Linked DNA regions of Homo sapiens. The protein of the gene in region 1 binds, or shares a complex with, the protein of each later gene. Each region holds a gene or a part of one and is shown on either strand. Other genes may lie near its edges.

Region 1 (5,381 bases):
AGCAGCCAAGCGATCCTGAGAGCAGCCAAGCGGGATGCTGTTGAGATGGGCCCGGAGTAGCCACAACCCTGGAACAGGGCTAGGCAGAGTCCTAAGGCCCAGTGCTGCTTGAGATTCTTAATAACGCTTTTGGTTTTTTCTTGGGTTGTAGGAAAATTCCTTTTGAAAATTCTAGCCTGTCTCAGCTCTGCTGAGGGAAGATGGAAACAGTATTTTTTGTTTTGTTCTGTTTTCCCCACATCTCACTCAGGAGAAGAAAAGTAGTGCATTCCCTGGAGGCTCCCAGGGTGGCACCGATAAGAGCATGTGCAGAGGTTCCCTCGCCCCAGCTAGCGCTCTGCCTTCCCTGCTTCTCAGCTCATCACTGACCTCGCCCATTGCCCTGTCAGTTGAGATCCCACACACACGCGTGTGTGCACAGATGCACGCAAATAGATGCACAGATTCCAGATGTCTGTGGAGCGGTGGTCTCCCAACCTCCCCCATGGAGTTCAAACCCTCACTGTCAGCTTCTGGTTGTGAGACCATCCCCCCTTCCCCAGGCCTCACCAGCCTGGAACTGCCTTTCAGCTTGAAACTGCTTGTACTACTTGCCTTGTTGGGGATAAGGGTTGGAGCAGGTGTTTAGAGGAATTGTTTTGTTTTGTTTTTAAAAGACAGGGTTGGCCGGGCGTGGTGGCTCACGCCTGTAATCCCAGCACTTTGGGAGGCCAAGGTGGGCGGATCACAAGGTCAGGAGTTCGAGACCAGCCTGACCAACATGGTGAAACCCCGTCTCTATTAAAATACAAAAAATTAGCCGGGCGTGAGGAGACTGAAGCAGAGAATCGCTTGAACCTGGGAGGCAGAGGTTGCAGTGAGCCAAGATCACACCACTGCACTCCAGCCTGGGGACAGAGCTATACTCCATCTCAAAAAAACACATAAGCCAAAAAATAAAAGACAGGGTCTCACTCTGTCGCCCAGGCTGGAGTGCAGTGGTGTGATCATAGCTCACTGCAGCCTCAGCCTCCTGGAGTCAAGTGATCCTCCCATCTAAGCTTTTTGAGTAGCTGGGACTGTAGGTATGCACCACCATGCCCAGCTAATTTTTTATTTTTTGTAGAGATAGGGTCCCACTATGTTGCCCAGGTTGGTTTTGACCTCCTGGCCTCAAGCAGTCCTCCCACCTTGGCCTCCCAAAAGTGCTGGGATTACAGGTGTGAGCCATCACGTCTGGCTGAGGAATACAATCTTTTTTTTTTTTTGAGATAGCGTCGCACTGTCACCCAGGCTAGAGTTCAATGGCACAATCTCGGCTCACTGCAACCTCCGCCTCCGGGTTGAAGCAATTCTCCCACCTCAGCCTCCCGAGTAGCTGGGACTGCAGGCATGCATCACCACGCCTGGCTAATTTTTGTATTTTTAGTAGAGACGGGGTTTCACCACGTTGGCCAGACTGCTCTTGAACTCCTGACCTTAAGTGATCCACCCGTCTCGGCCTCCCAAAGTGCTGGGATTACAGGCACGAACCACCGCGCCCAGCTGGAATACAGTCTTAAAGTAATGATTTATGAGGAAAAACACCTGATAAGATAAAAACTCACTTCGAGTATTTCTCTTAGCCAGGGTTCAATGATTCCAGGCAAGGGCCAGGCACAGTGACGGCTCAGGGCTGTAAACCCAGCACTTTGGGAGGCCGAGGCAGGCGGATCACTTGAGCCCAGGAGTTCGAGACCAACCTAGGCAACATAGTGAAACCCTGTCTGTACACAAAATAAAAAAATCATCTGGGCACGGTGGCCCACACTGTAGTCCCGGCTACTTGGGAGGCTGCAGTGAGCCATTATTGCACTAGTGTACTCCAGCCTGGGGGACACAGCAAGACCCTGTCTCAAAAAAAAAAGATTCCAGGCTGTTCTGCAGAGAGAGATTTGTCCTTAGCTTCTCCACTGCTGGTGGCATCTGGAGTCCCAGGTGCTGCTCTTCCTGCGTGATCTGCACAGTGTCCTGGGAAAGAGCAGGTGCAGATGCAGATGCCACATGTAGGACACCCCCTTCCACCCCTGCCAACCTTGGCCTCCCTCCCTCCCTCCCTACCTAGGACCTCTTCTCAGCTCTCATCAAGGGCCCCACTCGAACCCCCTACGAGGATGGCCTCTACTTGTTTGACATCCAGCTCCCCAACATCTACCCAGCCGTGCCCCCCCACTTCTGCTACCTCTCCCAATGCAGTGGCCGCCTGAACCCCAACCTGTATGACAATGGGAAGGTGTGTGTCAGCCTCCTGGGCACCTGGATTGGAAAGGTGAGTATAGGGCCAGGCCCCCAGCCAAGAAGGAGGAAGAGCCACTGGTGGATAGGGGCCTGGGGAACAGAATTGATGGTGCCCTGTGTGTTTCAGGGGACAGAGAGGTGGACAAGCAAGTCCAGCCTTCTCCAGGTGCTCATCTCCATCCAAGGTACAGTTGGGCTGAAGCGGGGGTGCGGACAAGGGAGGGCCGGTGGAGGAAAGTGACTCTGATAGTCCCCCTGGCAGGTGGAGGGTAGGCCTGCATTGTGGGCCTCTCTCACCCACTGAGGGAAGGTGTCCCGCCCACACAGGTCTGATCCTGGTAAATGAACCATACTACAACGAAGCCGGCTTCGACAGTGACCGAGGCCTGCAGGAAGGCTATGAAAACAGTCGCTGTTACAATGAGATGGCGCTGATCCGCGTGGTGCAGTCCATGACCCAGCTGGTGCGGCGGCCCCCCGAGGTCTTTGAGCAGGAGATCAGGCAACACTTTAGCACTGGTGGCTGGCGGCTGGTGAACCGTATCGAGTCCTGGCTGGAAACCCATGCCCTGCTGGAGAAGGCCCAGGCACTGCCCAACGGGGTGCCCAAGGCCAGCAGCTCGCCAGAGCCCCCAGCTGTAGCCGAGCTGTCAGACTCCGGCCAACAAGAACCTGAGGATGGAGGGCCAGCCCCAGGAGAGGCCTCCCAGGGCTCAGACTCAGAGGGCGGTGCCCAGGGCCTGGCCTCAGCTAGCAGGGACCACACAGACCAGACTTCGGAGACCGCACCAGACGCATCGGTGCCACCCAGTGTGAAACCAAAGAAGCGGAGAAAGAGCTACCGGAGCTTCTTACCTGAGAAGAGTGGCTACCCTGACATCGGCTTCCCCCTCTTCCCACTTTCCAAGGGTTTCATCAAGAGCATCCGGGGTGTCCTGACGCAGTTCCGGGCTGCCCTGCTAGAGGCAGGCATGCCGGAGTGCACAGAGGACAAGTAGCTGCCAGGCACAGAGGAAAGAGCATCACCGTGGGAGAGGCCAGCCGCCGCCTGCTCACTCCCCCCCGGAATCACCCCTCTTCCCATGCCCCTCTGTCCCCACTGCAAACCCACTGCCCTCTTCTCCCCAAGGTGAGTTTGATGCTGAAGTGCAAGAAGTGTGTTGAGATGCTGCCGTTTCTATTTTGAAGCGAGCTTTCAACAGGCGGGTCCCCTGTGGCAAAGAAAATCGGAACCCTGTTGCCGATTTTCCATTTGTCACCCCAGCAGAATGTCCGGCACTTGCTCCCTTGCTGCCCCTTCTCAGGTCAGAGGCGGGTGTTCCAGGGCCTGCCGCGGGGCTCTCTGGGCCGGTTCCCTGCAGACCCGCAGGAGAGCACATGTGCCTTGCATGAAGTGTGGGTTGCGCCAACAATTCCCCTGGTCCCTTTCAACCTGTTTAGTTCAACTCAAGCCTCCCTGTGTCCCAGACCCTCCTGCTGCCACCACCACCCAGGTCCTCCCTAGTCCTCCAGCGTCAACACTATCCCTTGGGAGTTGTAGCTGCTGTCACTGACTCCCGGCTATACATGGCCTGTCGACCACGTTATAGCCCTCAGGCCTGTTGAACTTGCTCTCTAAGAGAGGTTGGGACCAGGCTAGGTTCCGGGTGACGCCCAGGAGAGGTGGTGGCCTTCACACATGCACATGGAGTTGAGGACCAGGGAGCTGCAGGGAAAGCAACAGCTATAGGTGCCTTGCTCTTCTGTCGGAGGCTGCTGGGGGCAAGAGCAGCTGCACAAGGCCAGGGCAAGTGCTAGGGCCCCTCCCCCATCACATGGTCACACTGGGACAGGCGTGCAGCTCACTGAACTCCAAGCGAGCCAGCCCTCTCTTGGACTAGAAGGCCTACTGTCAGCCCTTCGCTTACAAACTGCAGGCTCAATCCGAAGGGGACGGCCGGCGGGGGCTCTCCTAGTGCCCAGAGACAGGCCCAGAGGTTTACAAGTTTTCTAAGCTTTTGATAATGTGAAGCTCCAGGCCGAGAGGATGCTGTTGAGCACATTGCAGCTATGTAATTTTTGGTGTATGTATGTAATATTTAAGGTTGGAAAAAAAACTCAAAAGCAAAGATATTAACTCTTATTAGAAAAAAAGACAAAAAAAAAGCCAAAGCATGATGCGTCTTGTCAGCCTTAAGTGGGCTCCACACCTGTGCTGTGCTGTGACCGCCCAGCCAGCAGAGCTGCGGGAGGATGGAGCCGGACCACACACCGTGGCATTTGGAACCGAGTCGGTATCTTGTTTGAGAAACACCCGGAGTGACTGGTGGGGCTGTGCTTCCCAGTGCATTGTACATGTGGAGATGTGAATGCCTACTGCTTACGATATCTGTATAAAGTGCTGTGTGATTAAACTTTTTTTTACTTGCATTTTTTTTTTTTTTTTTTTTTGTGTTGGCTCATTAGCAAGACAAGGTGACACCATTAAACCTCCCTCTGCCATTCATCTGGGCTCCGTTGCCTTTGTGTCCCTCACACACACCCTTCCTGGGGAAGGAAAGACCTTGTTTGTTGCCAGGGAAGGCATGTGGCAGTGGGTCCTGGCTTTCCTGGCCAGGTGGGGGCCACTGTGAACAGCACCCCCACCCGCCCACACTGCCCTCTGCCTGCCAGACCTGCTTGCATGCCTTTTGTACTTCTTGTCCTGGAGCAGTCCTCTGGCCTCCTCCTGGCCGGTGGTGTGCCCCTCAGGAGCCAGCTTAGAGCAGCCTCCCAGCAGCTGTAGTCTCCAGAGACCTACAACTGACCAGTTCAGCTCCTTCCAGGTTCTGGGAGAGCCGACGTCATAGCACCTGGCGGTGGACAGGTGCCACAACTCCTGGACGCTAAGCCAAAATGGTTGCCCAGTTTAGACTTGGATGGATCCTTCCCTGCCACATTCTTTCCACTCCTGCCTGGCACTCCTCCACAGGGACAGGTAGGGAAAGGAGACAGCTGAGGGAGGCTGGGAGAACCCTAGAACCCTAGACCATTGTGGTGGATGACAGACTCCTTTTAAAAAGGTAAGATACCAGGTGTGGTGGCTCATGACTGTAATCCCAGCACTTTGGGAGGCAGAGGCGGGCAGATGACTTGAGGTCAGGGGT
Region 2 (7,184 bases), on another chromosome or scaffold:
TTTCTTTTGATGGACCAGAAATTATGGGTTGTACAGGGTGAGTTTAATTTTACTACCTTAACAAAATGTTTTTTCTGTTTTTGTTATACTTGATTTGTATACTCGGTTATTTTCAGTTACATATGTACATAGTCTGTCTCTGAACATTTTGGTAATATGTTTTCTGAAAAGTGCTTATCAAGTTTCCTGTAATTCTCCTTGGACCCATGACTGTCTCACATATATTTTTGCAGAGGAATGCTTCTTTAAATTATACTATGTGTTTGTGCTAATTGTAAATGTGTTTATTTTAAATATTTGCTTAGAAATAAAATTTTTCCCTTTATACTGCTATAGAAAACATTTGAAGCAATTCACCCTTCTAAAATTTGAAATCTAAATAGAACATTTACTTCTAAAAGTTTAGCAGTTGAAAGATTGTCAATTGTAATAGATTTTTCTTCTTTGTTTTGCAAGGTGCCAGATAGATTGGAAAAAAGGAAAGAATGTCACTTTGAAAACTATTAAGAAGAAGCAGAAACACAAGGGACGTGGGACAGTTCGTACTGTGACTAAAACAGTTTCCAATGACTCTTTCTTTAACTTTTTTGCCCCTCCTGAAGGTAAATAATGTTTTAGCTTGAGTATTAACGGTTGTTTTATAAAAAGCATTGCTTAGCTTCTTATTCATTGTAATTTCTTTTCTCAATTTTGCAGTTCCTGAGAGTGGAGATCTGGTAAGTTGAATTGTTATATATTTATTGAATTGTTAAGTATATTTGAAATTAAAGCACTGAATTTCAAAAATGGAGAGTGGGATGGTTGTTACATTGAGTTCTGAGGCCTACAATGCATGGGGCAGACTTTTTGGATATGAAAAATAATTCCATTCAAAATTATATCAGTGCTTCTGCTGAGAAACACTGAGATAAAAAGCTTAAGGTTTTCTTTTCTTTTGAAACTTCACATATTGCTGTGAGGGATTTAACTTTTCAAAACTGTTGTCTTCCTTAGTAAAACCAGAATATATTAAGTCACTTATACTGTTACATTCCTAACTACATTATGGTTCAAATTCATTCCTGAATTTGTTACTCCAATGTAAATATGGTTTCATATTGTGACTAAGTATGTTCACATATATGGCATATGGCAAAGAACATGAAATGTTCCTGCCATATAGACTGAACTGAGGAACAACCTTAAAGAAAGTCTATACACACAAGGTAGGGCAGGTATGTTTTGAATTTGGTTTTCTTTTGGGCATGTTTTTGAATTTAAATTAACTGAGATAGTTTAAATAGTTTGTACATATATGGAATTAGAAATTAACCTAAACTGAATACTTTTGAATTGGAATACTCTTGGCTAAGACTTAGAACAAATTTGTAAAAGGCAAAAGTAAGTATTTCTGGCTTGGCTTATAGGACAAAAAAAGAGAACATAAAGCAGTGTGAATTTCAGGTGAGAAAAACTACTTTAAGTATTAAGATAGAGCATCACACTATTTTCATATCAGTGGATGGGTTGGAGTTTGTGTTCAAGTTTGGGGTTTTTTTTTGTTTGTTTGTTTGTTTGTTACTAAATATTGATGATGACAAAACAGTCTAGTTAAGGATAGAAAACCTCCACCTGTGGTTTGAATTCCTCCCCACCCCCTTTTGGATTTTTCTATTTATTAGATTATGTTGTTGACTCAAACATTCATGGAATTCACAGAGGGTGTGCTCATTGTTTAGTATCATAGAACTTGTATCATTGTTTAGTATCATAGAAGTGGGATTATTTTATTTTATTATTATTATTTTTTTTTTGAGATGAAGTATTGCTCTGTCATCCAGGCTGGAGTGCAGTGGTGCGATCTCCACTCACCACAACCTCTGCCTCCCGGGTTCAAGCAATTCTCCTGCCTCAGCCTCCCGAGTAGCTGGGATTACAGGCACGTGCCATTGAACTCGCTAATTTTTGTATTTTTAGTAGAGACGGGGTTTCACCATGTTGGCCAGGCTGGTCTTGAACTCCTGACCTCAGGTAATCTGCCTGCCTTGGCCTCCCAAAGTCCTGGGATTACAGGCATGAGCCAGGCCAAAGTGGGATTATTTTAATTGTGAATAATGTCAGACCCACTTTTGCCCTGTGCTTTTCTATTAAATAGAAATCCTAAGCCAGGTACAGCTTCAGGCACCTGTAGTCCCAGCTGCTCTGGTGGCGGAGGTGGAAGGATCACTTGAGGCCAGCCTGGGCAACATAGCGAGACCCTGTCTCTAAAAAAGAAAAGTGCTAGGGGCACCTGATTTAGTTAGTATATTGTCTTTCTGAACTAGGACTGTCTCATTTGGGATTAGTAGACTTAAAACTGTACAGCTGTTTGGGTACTGTCTTTTAGGAACTATAAAGTGATCCTCTGTGGTTGTTTATTATGTCCTTCTATTTGCTATGTACTTAACAATATTAACAATAACTATATATTAACAATAACCCAAGGGTTTTTTTTTTTATTTTTCTATTTGGTGTTTTCAATAATATTTTAAAAGGAAAATTGCGGACATGTAACAGTTGCTTTTATGTATTTATGTTTAAACCAGCAAAAACTAAGCAGTTCTAATTTTTATTCTTCACAATTTATCTTAGTATGCATACTGGCCTGCTAGCTTATTTTCTTTTTGTTAAAAACTTGGAAAAGTTATTAAGGAAATTTAAAAATGACAAATCATTTGTTAACATGGTGTGAGAAAAATCATGGAAAGTAAAAAGTAAAGTTGAGCATTTCTTCCCTTCATCATATAATTTAAACTGAAGAGTCTGTCTTTTTTTTTTTTTTTTTTCGGTTGCCCAGGCTAGAGTACACTGGTGTGATCACAGCTCATTTCAGCCTCAAGCTGCTGGGCTCCAGCAATCTTCCCACCTCAGCCTCTCAAGTAGCTGAGACTACAGGCGTGTGCCACCCTGCCCAGTTAATTGTTTATTTTTTGTACAAACGCAGGGGGCGTCTCACTATGTTGCTTAGGTTGCTCTTGAACTTCTGGGCTCAAGTGATCCTCCTACTTTGGCCTCCTGAAGTGTTGGGACTACAGTTGTGAGCCATCACACCCAGCCTCTAAGAGTCTTACATGTGCCAAATTAAGTAACACAGTTATTCCTAAATTTTCTGCTTTTGTTTTCCTTTAAAAATAGGATGATGATGCTGAAGCTATCCTTGCTGCAGACTTCGAAATTGGTCACTTTTTACGTGAGCGTATAATCCCAAGATCAGTGTTATATTTTACTGGAGAAGCTATTGAAGATGATGATGATGATGTAAGCGAATTTGAATCCTGCAAAGAAATAATTGGTTGAGGGTATAGTGGTCAGAATTGGTAATAGATTAGTTTAGTTTTTAAGAAGCAGGACATAATATAATTCAAAATTAGGCTAATTACTGATGTTCTGTATATAGCTTTTCTGGGTTTTAAGTATGTCTCCTTAGGATTTTTGGATTCATTTATCTTAGCTTTTAATTTTCTGCTAATAAGATTGTTCTGAGTTTATGAAACTTTTTTATGTTTGGTTAGTGCTATAGATCTATTATGCCCTTGCCTTGACTTCACAGAGCTAGGACTTTCTTTAGTGCACAAGAAAACATTTACTGGGAGGCATAGAATTTCTATTCAAGGTAGTATTGAATGATGGTTAGGTTAAGATTAGGTTGCATATAGATGTTTTGAATATGTTTATTGCTCAACGGCAATTGTTAGAGTAGGCTTTAGGTCCTTTTCGTACAGTGCATTCCACACTTAAGTGTAGGTGAGTAATATTTACAGTAATACTTGTCTGATCATCCACTTTATCCACATGATTGTACTCTGTTCTTTAATTTTATAAATTGGCAGTGAGCAGAGTGATTCTTGCAGCTACTATGTGTTTTAATTTATAATCAGCCCCTTGATAGGAAAGTAGGTTTTCTCTTTTTAGACACTAGTTTATACAGTGATAAATGTTACTGATGCTACTCTGAAATGTGTGTTACATTCACTCAACACTTAACGCTGTTTTTCCTTTTCAGTATGATGAAGAAGGTGAAGAAGCGGATGAGGTAATGTTTACCAAATGAGCAAATAATTCTCTGTGGTTAACACATTGAGAAGCAAATTGAATGACTTATGTATTCCTTTGCTATAATCATTCTGTGATTTGGGATAAAAACATTTTGGAAAACATGATTTTAGAATTCTACAGCCAAACAATGTATGTATAAGGTTTCAATAAATAAATTGCAAAACTCAGCAACATTTTTTTATTTCAAATAATTTTGTTCTGCTGCAGGGTTATCAGCTCTTTGAAGAAGTCAAAAGCTGCAGTAAACTTTTCCAACGTTGGCTGCAGTAACTATTTTCAATAAAAGCTGTCTGGATGTCTCAAGTTGTGTTGGGAAATTTTTCATATTAGAAGCTTTCAAATTAAATTGTATTATCATCAAAGTCTGTAATCATGAAAATCTGTTGATCCGTAGAGTAACTTGTATTAAATTTTCCCTACATTATGAGCCAGTTTACCTACTATGTACATACTTCATGGATGCATTTTGAACTTTAATATAGGAAGGGGAAGAAGAAGGAGATGAGGAAAATGATCCAGACTATGACCCAAAGGTGAGCAAAATTAGTGCTGCTTTCTATTAAATTTAAGATAGCTAAAGTAAGAGTTGGTGTTTTTGAATATCAAGTTTCTCTCCGTTAAAGTCTTTAATAAATAAAGCCTATTGACTGGATAACTTTGTTTTTTCAGTCCCACTGGCATTGTGAACAGTACACATAATTTCAGTGGACGTTTTTCTAAAAAACATTGTTTTTTGTTTGGACTTCGTGCTTTTTATAGTTTCAGGTACAGTGAACCCTAGGATTCTATTTTAATGGGACGATTTGTAACAGTTTTTAAGCATTAGAAAATAAAGGTTTTTAAAAGATCTGGTTGTAGGAGTGTTCGGGAACTGGGGAGCAGTGCAGTTTGTTAGATCCTTCCAACTACTCTTACTCAGTCCCTGAGAGTCCTAGTCTATTATTCCTGAGAATTTGTTATATTAGGATTAGCAAAAACAAAGCTGATTGGTAATATAACTAACATAAATTGCTTGGTAACTTTATTTTTTTAAGATTATGGTTTAGCGTGTGTCACATTTTATGGAGTTAATTCTACAGTGTAAAGTTTGAGCTTGATTTTAGCATTTCAGTGACTTGCTAATAAAATAAATAATTTACCACCATTGTCCTATACCATTTCTTTTGACAACAGTGAGCTACTGTTATAATTAAGGCAGTAATTACTATTGAGAAATTCACTGAAGCAGGTAGAAGAAGATAGATTGACTTGTTGTTTTCCTTTAACAGAAGGATCAAAACCCAGCAGAGTGCAAGCAGCAGTGAAGCAGGATGTATGTGGCCTTGAGGATAACCTGCACTGTAATAGCCTAAACACAACTCTTATTTACTTACAGCCTTATGTTTTTGTATTTTCTTGGTAGACTAGGTAATTTTTTTTTAAAGGACAGGAAACTGATATTTTAAAGACCAATTTGTTCTACCTAGCATTTTAACTAGTTTTTCTGCCAGCTATGTTGAATGCACAAATTCTGTCACGCATGTTCATTCATTGCTACATAATTTGGTTCTTCTGGAATATTTTTATGTAGCTCTTGGAGTACAGCTATGAAAATTAACAACTGTTAAAGGAAATACCTTTTTTTTTTTTTTGTAATTTTTTCCTTGAAGAACCAAAGTATTTTTTCAGCTGGTTGTTGAATAGGGTTAAGTCCGCTTGGATTAGCTGTGCCTTTCATTACTTTGTTACAGAAATGCAGTGACTTATACTAAGACAATTTATTGTTTAAAAAAAAAATTGGCAAGACAACTATATGGTTAAGAATTTCCAGTATGACCACACCCAATAACTGTTATTAGAGTGTTAATGGATTATTGTGTTTTAGGTGACATAGTTAACTGTAAAGTAACCTGACTCAGTATAGTTACTGGTACCACAGTGAGGTGAATAAAACGGGATTTTCAGAAGTTAGCCTGAATTTAACTGTATTTTTAAATTTAACCTCCATTAACTAAGCATCTTTTCTTTGTGGTAGGGTCTACCTTCTGCTTCCCTGGAAAGGATGAATTTACATCATTTGACAAGCCTATTTTCAAGTTATTTGTTGTTTGTTTGCTTGTTTTTGTTTTTGCAGCTAAAATAAAAATTTCAAATACAATTTTAGTTCTTACAAGATAATGTCTTAATTTTGTACCAATTCAGGTAGAAGTAGAGGCCTACCTTGAATTAAGGGTTATACTCAGTTTTTAACACATTGTTGAAGAAAAGGTACCAGCTTTGGAACGAGATGCTATACTAATAAGCAAGTGTAAAAAAAAAAAAAAAAGAGGAAGAAAATCTTAAGTGATTGATGCTGTTTTCTTTTAAAAAAAAAAAAAAAAATTCATTTTCTTTGGGTTAGAGCTAGAGAGAAGGCCCCAAGCTTCTATGGTTTCTTCTAATTCTTATTGCTTAAAGTATGAGTATGTCACTTACCCGTGCTTCTGTTTACTGTGTAATTAAAATGGGTAGTACTGTTTACCTAACTACCTCATGGATGTGTTAAGGCATATTGAGTTAAATCTCATATAATGTTTCTCAATCTTGTTAAAAGCTCAAAATTTTGGGCCTATTTGTAATGCCAGTGTGACACTAAGCATTTTGTTCACACCACGCTTTGATAACTAAACTGGAAAACAAAGGTGTTAAGTACCTCTGTTCTGGATCTGGGCAGTCAGCACTCTTTTTAGATCTTTGTGTGGCTCCTATTTTTATAGAAGTGGAGGGATGCACTATTTCACAAGGTCCAAGATTTGTTTTCAGATATTTTTGATGACTGTATTGTAAATACTACAGGGATAGCACTATAGTATTGTAGTCATGAGACTTAAAGTGGAAATAAGACTATTTTTGACAAAAGATGCCATTAAATTTCAGACTGTAGAGCCACATTTACAATACCTCAGGCTAATTACTGTTAATTTTGGGGTTGAACTTTTTTTTGACAGTGAGGGTGGATTATTGGATTGTCATTAGAGGAAGGTCTAGATTTCCTGCTCTTAATAAAATTACATTGAATTGATTTTTAGAGGTAATGAAAACTTCCTTTCTGAGAAGTTAGTGTTAAGGTCTTGGAATGTGAACACATTGTT

Evidence for each region.
Region 2: the proteins of UBE2O (region 1) and NAP1L1 are in contact, whole or in part, in a cryo-EM structure (PDB 7UN6), measured with the Homo sapiens proteins. Residues at the interface, in NP_071349.3 of Homo sapiens: Ser225, Asn226, Val282, Lys283, Pro284, Val285, Lys289, Ser290, Lys291, Phe292, Arg293; in NP_001317160.1 of Homo sapiens: Arg333, Arg337, Thr343, Gly344, Glu345, Ala346, Ile347, Asp349.

The regions. Positions count from the first base shown.
Region 1 is NC_000017.11:76,388,816-76,394,196, reverse strand, and holds the end of UBE2O ((E3-independent) E2 ubiquitin-conjugating enzyme), read left to right. Parts: intron 1-2,083; coding exon 2,084-2,287; intron 2,288-2,383; coding exon 2,384-2,441; intron 2,442-2,583; coding exon 2,584-3,254; 3' UTR 3,255-4,741; downstream 4,742-5,381. UniProt on the Homo sapiens protein: E2/E3 hybrid ubiquitin-protein ligase that displays both E2 and E3 ligase activities and mediates monoubiquitination of target proteins. Negatively regulates TRAF6-mediated NF-kappa-B activation independently of its E2 activity.
Region 2 is NC_000012.12:76,046,623-76,053,806, reverse strand, and holds part of NAP1L1 (nucleosome assembly protein 1-like 1), read left to right. Parts: coding exon 1-37; intron 38-456; coding exon 457-602; intron 603-696; coding exon 697-716; intron 717-3,153; coding exon 3,154-3,276; intron 3,277-4,021; coding exon 4,022-4,051; intron 4,052-4,281; coding exon of another isoform or gene 4,282-4,344; exon of another isoform or gene 4,345-4,556; coding exon 4,557-4,607; exon of another isoform or gene 4,608-5,218; intron 5,219-5,342; coding exon 5,343-5,378; 3' UTR 5,379-7,184. UniProt on the Homo sapiens protein: Histone chaperone that plays a role in the nuclear import of H2A-H2B and nucleosome assembly.